Linked DNA regions of Homo sapiens. The protein of the gene in region 2 interacts with the protein of the main gene of each other region in a pairwise test. Each region holds a gene or a part of one and is shown on either strand. Other genes may lie near its edges.

Region 1 (3,656 bases), on a different chromosome or scaffold from region 2:
CCTTATTATTGTATAGCTGTCTATCTCTTTTATTAGGTTGAGTAGTATTTGTTTTATAAATCTGAGTTGTCCATTTTGGGATGCATATATATTTAAGACAGCTATATCTTCTCCTTGTATTGAACCCTTTATTATTATATAATACATTCTTTGTCTTTTTACTGTTGTTGATTTAAAATCTGCTTTATCTGATGTAAATATAGCTACTACTGCTCATTTTTGTTTTGTGTTTGCACAGTGTATCTTTTTCCACTCCATTGAGTTTGTGGGTGTTTTTACCAAAGGGTGTCACTTGTGGGCAGAAAACGATCAGGTTTTGTTTTTTAATCCAATTTGCCTGTCTATATGTTTAAGTGGAGGATTTAGGCCATTTATGTTCAGGGTTAATATTGATATATGAGGGTTTGTTTCCGTCATAATATTGTTACCTAGTTGCTTTGTTGTCTCAATTTACACTACGATTTTTATATCTACATTTATAAATGAAATTAGCCTGTAATTTTTCTTTTCCATACTGTCCTTGTCAGGTGTTAGTATCAAGGGTATGCTGCCTCAAAAAATGAGTTGGGAAGTGTACTGAGTTGAATAGTGTTTACCCAGAAGCTGTGAGTGTGACATTTGGAAAGAAGGTCTTCGCAGATGTTATCAAATTAAGATGAGGTCATGCTGAGTTAGGGTGGGCCTATAGAAGATCAGGAAAATTTAGACATGGAGGAAAGAAAGCCATGTGATTAAAGTGAGACTGGAGTGATGCATCCATAGGCCAAGGATTGCTAGAAACCATAAGAAGCTAGAAGAGGCAAGGAAGGATTCTTCCCTAAAGAAAACAGAAGAAGAATGACCCTGCTGATATCTTGATTACAAACTTCTATCCTCCAGAGCAATGAGAGAATAGATTTCTGTTGTTTTAAGCCACTTGGTTTGTGGCAATTTGTTATGGTGCTCTAAGAAACTAATAGAGAAAGTGGCCCCACTTTTTTGATTCTCTGAAATGTTTATGTAAAATTGGAATATTTTCCTTGACTTTACAGTAGACCTTGCCAGTGGAGTCTTCAGGGTCAAGTATTTACTTGGTGAGATTTCTGATTACTGATTGAATTTCTTTAATGATTACAGAACTATTTGGGTTTTCTATTTCTTCTTGAGTTAATTTTGAGAAGCTATTTTTTTTACATGTTCATAATATTTTCATTATCTTTCTTTTTTCACTGTTACAATAACTTTAATTTATCTTGTATTTTACAGAAGTCTATGAACGATTTTAAAAAAGCACCTCTTTACCCCATATCATGTTTCTCTGACAGTTGTTAAAGTAGTCTATACATATGTCAACAGCTTGAGCATCAGCATCTTGCAAGGATTTCACACCAACCAGCCACTAGCCAAAGAACTTGGCAGCTTTTTTATCTTGCTTTTAATACAATGGTATATCCACTCTGATGGCAAACTGGTTTAGCCACATATCCACAACACGCTTTGAAAAATCAGTGATTAGCAAATTAGTTAGCTTTGGCACAGGGCTGTGCTCGCTTGCCCATGACAGTCTGGAAGCCAGTTTTGATACTGGCAACAGAACATCTAGAATGACAAGTTTCACACTGTAGGAAATAAGAGTTGCATGTCCTTCTGCAGGATTGTGTCCAGTGATCAGCATGTGTGACAAGTGACATACTCCTTGATAAATCTTAAGACATTTTCTATCTGTTTTTGTTGGAATCTTCCTTTACAAGTTGGTTATTACCATCTATAGAACCACTTGTACCCAATTCAACCAACAAAAATGCAAGTGTGCTGACAATATAATAGTTTACAGATATCTGTAAAGTTGACAGAAGAAGTTTTCTTGGTTCCTACTCAGACGACCTGTGGAGGTTGCATAACGAATTTCTTTTTCTCCCCAGCAACCATATCTGGATTCTTTTCCCTCATGATGTTGAACACACAATTCAGCAGCTCCTCTTATGTGTAGTCTCCTTCTGAGCCTGCCCAAGCAGGGCCTGTCTGATTACTGAATGAGATACCATCATCTTTTTTGCTATCTTCATCTTCTAGAGCTTCATCTTTCTCTAGTAGTTCATCCTCATCTGGGAACTTGACATTCTTCTTTTTCTTCTTTTTATTCCAAGCATAATGTCAAGGTCATCCTCTGGTTCAGCTGGTTCTTGAACATCACTTTCAATCTTAAGATCCTTTACAACTTCTTCAGCTTCATCAATATCAAATATCTTTTTTGTTTTTTTTTCTTTTTCTTTTGATTAAAGAAGTTCAAGTCATCTAGATCATCAGAAGCATCGTTTTTCCTACTGTCCTCATTGTCAGCTTCCAAATCTTTGTCCTCAGTTGGCTCTGGCTCCAGACTTTTGTTTCTGAGGGCTGCGTTTCCTGTTTGAGTATCCCCTTCCTCATCTAACATAAAAGGCTTCTTCTTCTTCTTTTCTTCTTGCTCACAGTAGGATCAAAAATCATCTCATCTCCAGATATGGATGCGATTCCAGTGGGCTCCGCATGGATGGGAAGTCAGACAGGTCAGCCCCCAGGCCCCGTGGCAGCGCTGCTCCTGCTGATACCTCTCCCACCACCGCACTAGGCTCTTGCATCAGCCAAAGGGCCATTATCTTTCTTAAAGGCTACAGTATCTGCAATGATATCCCTTTCATCATTCTTTATATGCATTGCTTGGTGCCTTCTCTTCTCCTTCAATCTCTCCAGAGTTTGTCAATTGTATTAGTCTCAAAAAACTAACATTGTTGTTCCTCTTGATTCAAATGTTTTCTATTTCATTAATTTCTCCTCTTTATTATTTCCTTTCTTCTACTTGATTAGGGTGTATTTTACGGTTAGTTTGTCAGTTCCTTTACATAAATACTTAACTCATTATATTTCAGCCATTTTTCTTTTCTAATATATATTTTTAAAGCTATAAATTTTCTGATAAGTTTTACTTTAGCTGCATCCCTCAAGTTTTATATTATGTTTTCATTGCCATTCAGTTCCAAATTTTTTCTAAATTCCATTATTTCTGTTTTTACTCAGAGGATATTGGAAATTAACTTCCAAACATATGAGAATTACTAGTTATATTTTTGTTATTGATTTCTAGCTTAATTGCATTGTTGTCAGATAATGTATTCTTAATGAAATTTATTTAGATAAGATTTTATAATTCAGTATCTGGTCAATTTTTGTAAATGTTCCAGATGTATTTCAGAAGAATGTATATTCTCCCATTTTGGGGTGCATTGTTCTATGTAAATGTATTAAGTCAAGTTTCATAATCCCTAATACTTTTTTAGAAGAATAATTTTTTCTGCCTCCAAACTCTAATTACATTCTCTCATCTACCTTCTTTCTTACAAAGAAATATCAAGTTCTTTATCATTCTGAGCACTCTTCCCATGCATCATCGTCATCATCTTGGGTGACAAACCTTAAATTTCCAAACAGTGAGTAAGCCATTTAATAACTGGTTAAGGTTTGGGACATTATATTAATCTCTCCCAGGCTCAAAATCTCTTCTTACCTGTAAATGAGGATTGTAGGACTAACTGAGAATTAACATATAACATGTTTAAAAATACTATTATTTTTATTATTATTATTTAATAAATAACCTACATGGTACTGGCATATAACAGGCAAGATAAATGGTAATATTA
Region 2 (3,656 bases):
CGGCCAGGGCTGCGGTCAGGCTCTGCCAGGAGAGAGTAGGGGTGAGGCCAGTGGGGAAGAGCTGCAGAGGTGCCAGGAGGGAGGCTGGCTTCAGGGGGCCGGGCAGGCACCTGTTGGTCAGGTACTTCAGACCCATGGCTAGAAATCATCCACTACTCCTCTGTGAGCCCCGCCCCTAAACTCCTCCCTGTAGGCTGGGTGGTCCCCACTTCTGGGGCACCTTCTCTGGACTGAGATCCCCTGGGGTCACCTGGTTCTTCCTACCCAGTCTTGAGGACACTGAGGGGTGGAGCAGCCAAGGCTGGCCCACTAGGGCCTGAACCACGGGTCTCCCCCTCCAAATGCTATCTTCTAATATTGTTGGGGAGATGGGTGTACCCCTCAAAAATGGATATCCAGGGGCCCTCAAAAAGAAAAAGACGTCAACCCGGGGCAAACCAGAAGGATGGGGGAAACAGGGACGGCTGGCGGCCTGTATGTAGCCTCAAGAGTCTCCTTGCAGGAGGCTGGGCCCAGAAGTGCTCGCCGGTCCAGAGGGGAGGCAGCTGTGGGTTATGGGGAGGGCTCTTGGGATGGGGCTATGGAGGTGATGTGGCCCCAGATCTCTGCAGAAGGGTGATTAGGAGAGAAGAAACAGACATGACCCAGACCAGTGGGAAAGAGGGGCCAGCCGAGCTGCCAGCCCAGGGCCTGCTGGGCCCAGAGACATACTTTGTTTGACACACACAATATATTGTTTAAACCTGAATAAACTTCCAACATATCAAGATCAGATTTCATGTAAAAATTCAGACTTCTGCCTTCTCTAGGTCCCTATTCCTGCTTGGCAGCCGAGCAGAGGTACCCTCTTAGGACTTAGGATAGGCACGCATGTGTCACCCGGCCTGCTCACGGCTCTCAGGCCCTGCCTGGCCCATGTGCATCTGATGTCGACACCTGTGTCCCCCAGATCCTACCCTCTCATTTTATGGATGGGAAGACAGAGGCTAGGAAAATCAGAGGCAGCCCCGATCGGAAGCAGGTCTCCTGACTCCTAGGCAGGGCTGCTTCCCAGCCTCAAACCCTGTAAGCCTCACCTTCCTGTCTAGGCCTCTGCTTTCTCATCTGTGAAAGGGGATAATAAACACCATTTACCCAGAGTGGTTTGGGGGGGGGGTGGTCCGTGACCCCCAGGAAGGCTGCTCTGCACCACAGTGAGGGTCTGCCATCTCCAGTGACCATGCTACCCCCGAGGGCTGTAGCCTCCTTGCTGAGGGAGGCAGCACCACTGTGAGCGCCGCAGACAGGCAGGCAGAAGAGGGAGCGAGGGTAGTGTGGGCTCCCAGAGGCAGAGCGGGTCCCAGGCTAGCGAAAGGCCACCCATCCAGGGGCTCAGTGGGGAAAGGGGACGAGTGTGGGCTGGTGCGCGGTGGCTGTACTCACCCAGGTGAAGATGGAGAAAAAGGAGAAGGCGATGGCGGCCCGGGCTGCGTCCGTCCCTTCGTTCAGTGGGTTGTCCTTGGGCTTGGAGACCTGCCACTGGTTGGCCAGGTAGCAGAATCCCACGAACCAGAGGAAAGCCCAGAAGGCTGGGGGGTCCCAGGACCGGGCAGAATAGGCAGTGCCACACATGGGGGAGAGGGTGAGTGGGGAGAAAATGGGGAAGCCGAGGAACAGAGGGACATTCAAGAGTGCATCTCCCATGCTCCCCCACCCCCAAAGGGACAGGCAAAGGGGGTAGGGGAAGAGAGAGGGGAGCCAAGAGAAGATGCAGGCGAGAAGAGGGAAGCCAGCCAGATGCAGGGGGGAGGAGGCCACAGACAGGGCAGGGTCAGGGCCAGTCAGAGGAGAGCCACGGGCAGTGAGAGGGGAGGATGGAGGGAGAGACAGAGAAAGAAGGTAATCAACTCAGGCCGCATTTCTGCAGCCTCTGCCAAACCCCCATGTCCAGCCACACCGCTGACGTGGGCCCCCCCGGTCCACCCCTGATGCCTGCAACTCTGCAGGCAGGAAGACCCCAACCCTCAGGCTGCCAGACAAATGAGGTATGGGAAGGAGGACGAGGCTGGGGCAAGGATGGCAGCTTGGCTGGGTGGGTCTGGGCTTCGACTTCTAACGTGCTGCGACCCCACAGAGCCCCAGGTTTAGCGAGGGGCCCACTGAGAGCCGAGCCTGGGGGCGTCAGCAGTGGGAGCCTCATAGCCACGCAATCTCCTGTGAGTGCCAAGGTCTCCCCAGAGAAGCCCAGACCTGCTCAGGACAAGGCGTGCATCTGCCAAGCAGGTGGGGTGCCCACCTGGGGCCCAGCCCACCTCCCAGAGGCACTGCCAGGGAACCCTGAGGCTCTGTGGAAGTTTGAGAACCATTCATTTAGTTCTAGTTCCTTCTAAAACTAGACCTCATGACCTGCCTTCAGCCTGGCTTATCCTGAGAGCTCCAGGCTTAGAACTAGGGGTTGGTCCCAGTCCGGGGACCCAAGCCTCAGAACAGCGAGGCTGAAGCCTCGGGTTCGGACCCCTGACTGAGAGCATCCACCAATCAGATTCCTGGAAGTCACGGAGCAGAGGTCAGGGTGCCTCTGCCAAAGGCTGCTTCTGAAGGGCAAAGGGCAGCAGGTCAGGTTGGCTCCACAGGTCCAGGCCCTGGTCCTGCCAAGGTCTGGCTGGGAGGCGTGGGGAGGCTGAGGCTCCAGGGCCCCTGCTGTGCACTGGGCACCCAGTCACCGCCTTGCTTAGTCCTCATGAGGCTGCCCCAGGGAGGTGGCACAGAAGAGGCCACTGAAACACGGGCCAACCCATGGGGGCTGGCACATGCCCAGTGCCATCCATGGGTCCCTTAGACTAGAAGGAACTAGAATCCCATCCACGCTCCCCTGCCTGTGGGCAGCATGGGTTATTTTGGGGTCCCAGGCCCTGTCCTGGTCCCATCCTTCCTGCTGCCAGCCATGTGACCCTGAGTCCATCCCTTCACCCGCCTGCACCTCATTTCCTCATCTGAAACATGGGAAGAAGGGTGGCAGCCGCCTCCTATGGCCGGGACAGCCCTCTGTAGACTCTGTGCAGGGGGTACCTGCTGGGTGGGGCTCACCCGAGACACCGATGTCGGACAGGACGGCTTTCTTGCGGTCCTTGACGCTGCTGATCTGCGGGAAGTACACGTCCAGGGCCAGGTACAGCAGGCAGGTGAGGAAGGCGAGCACGCCCACGGCCACGCCATAGCTGCAGGCGTTGGGGTTGCGGTTGTAGATGCAGAACTCCTCCCCCTCGGAGGCGCTGTTGAGGTAGCCCTCGTTCACGATGGAGCCGAACACCACTATGGAGAACAGCTGTCGGGGGTGGGGCCACACCTTAGACCTGGGCAGACCCCTGCCTCACACCACCCAGGGGACGGGGAGGCTGCCACCCTCGCCTGCTGCCTGGCCCTCCGTGAGCTACAAGACCCGGGTTAAGCAGGCATTTCAGAGGGGGATCCCCAGAGAGGGAGGGTAACTTATGTGGGTCACATAGCACCAGGTGGGGGTCAATCACTTCCTTCCTCAGCCACAGGCACTGAGGACTCTCTGACCATAGATGTGGCCCCTTCCAACACCCCTCAGCCAGGTCCTAAAGGTCTTCCTGGGCCCTGACACCAAGATATCCTGGGACTGGACCGACTCTCAAAGAACAAGGAGCCACAGG

What was found. Proteins that work in one complex are often made in the same cells at the same time.
Region 1: the proteins of SYNGR1 (region 2) and EHHADH interact in binary tests that used the Homo sapiens proteins (3 or more experiments, as listed by UniProt).

Annotation. Positions count from the first base shown.
Region 1 is NC_000003.12:185,243,961-185,247,616, forward strand, and holds part of EHHADH (peroxisomal bifunctional enzyme), read right to left. Parts: intron 1-3,656. UniProt on the Homo sapiens protein: Peroxisomal trifunctional enzyme possessing 2-enoyl-CoA hydratase, 3-hydroxyacyl-CoA dehydrogenase, and delta 3, delta 2-enoyl-CoA isomerase activities. Catalyzes two of the four reactions of the long chain fatty acids peroxisomal beta-oxidation pathway.
Region 2 is NC_000022.11:39,373,964-39,377,619, reverse strand, and holds part of SYNGR1 (synaptogyrin-1), read right to left. Parts: intron 3,305-3,656; coding exon 3,067-3,304; intron 1,569-3,066; coding exon 1,423-1,568; intron 23-1,422; coding exon of another isoform or gene 1-22. UniProt on the Homo sapiens protein: May play a role in regulated exocytosis. Modulates the localization of synaptophysin/SYP into synaptic-like microvesicles and may therefore play a role in synaptic-like microvesicle formation and/or maturation.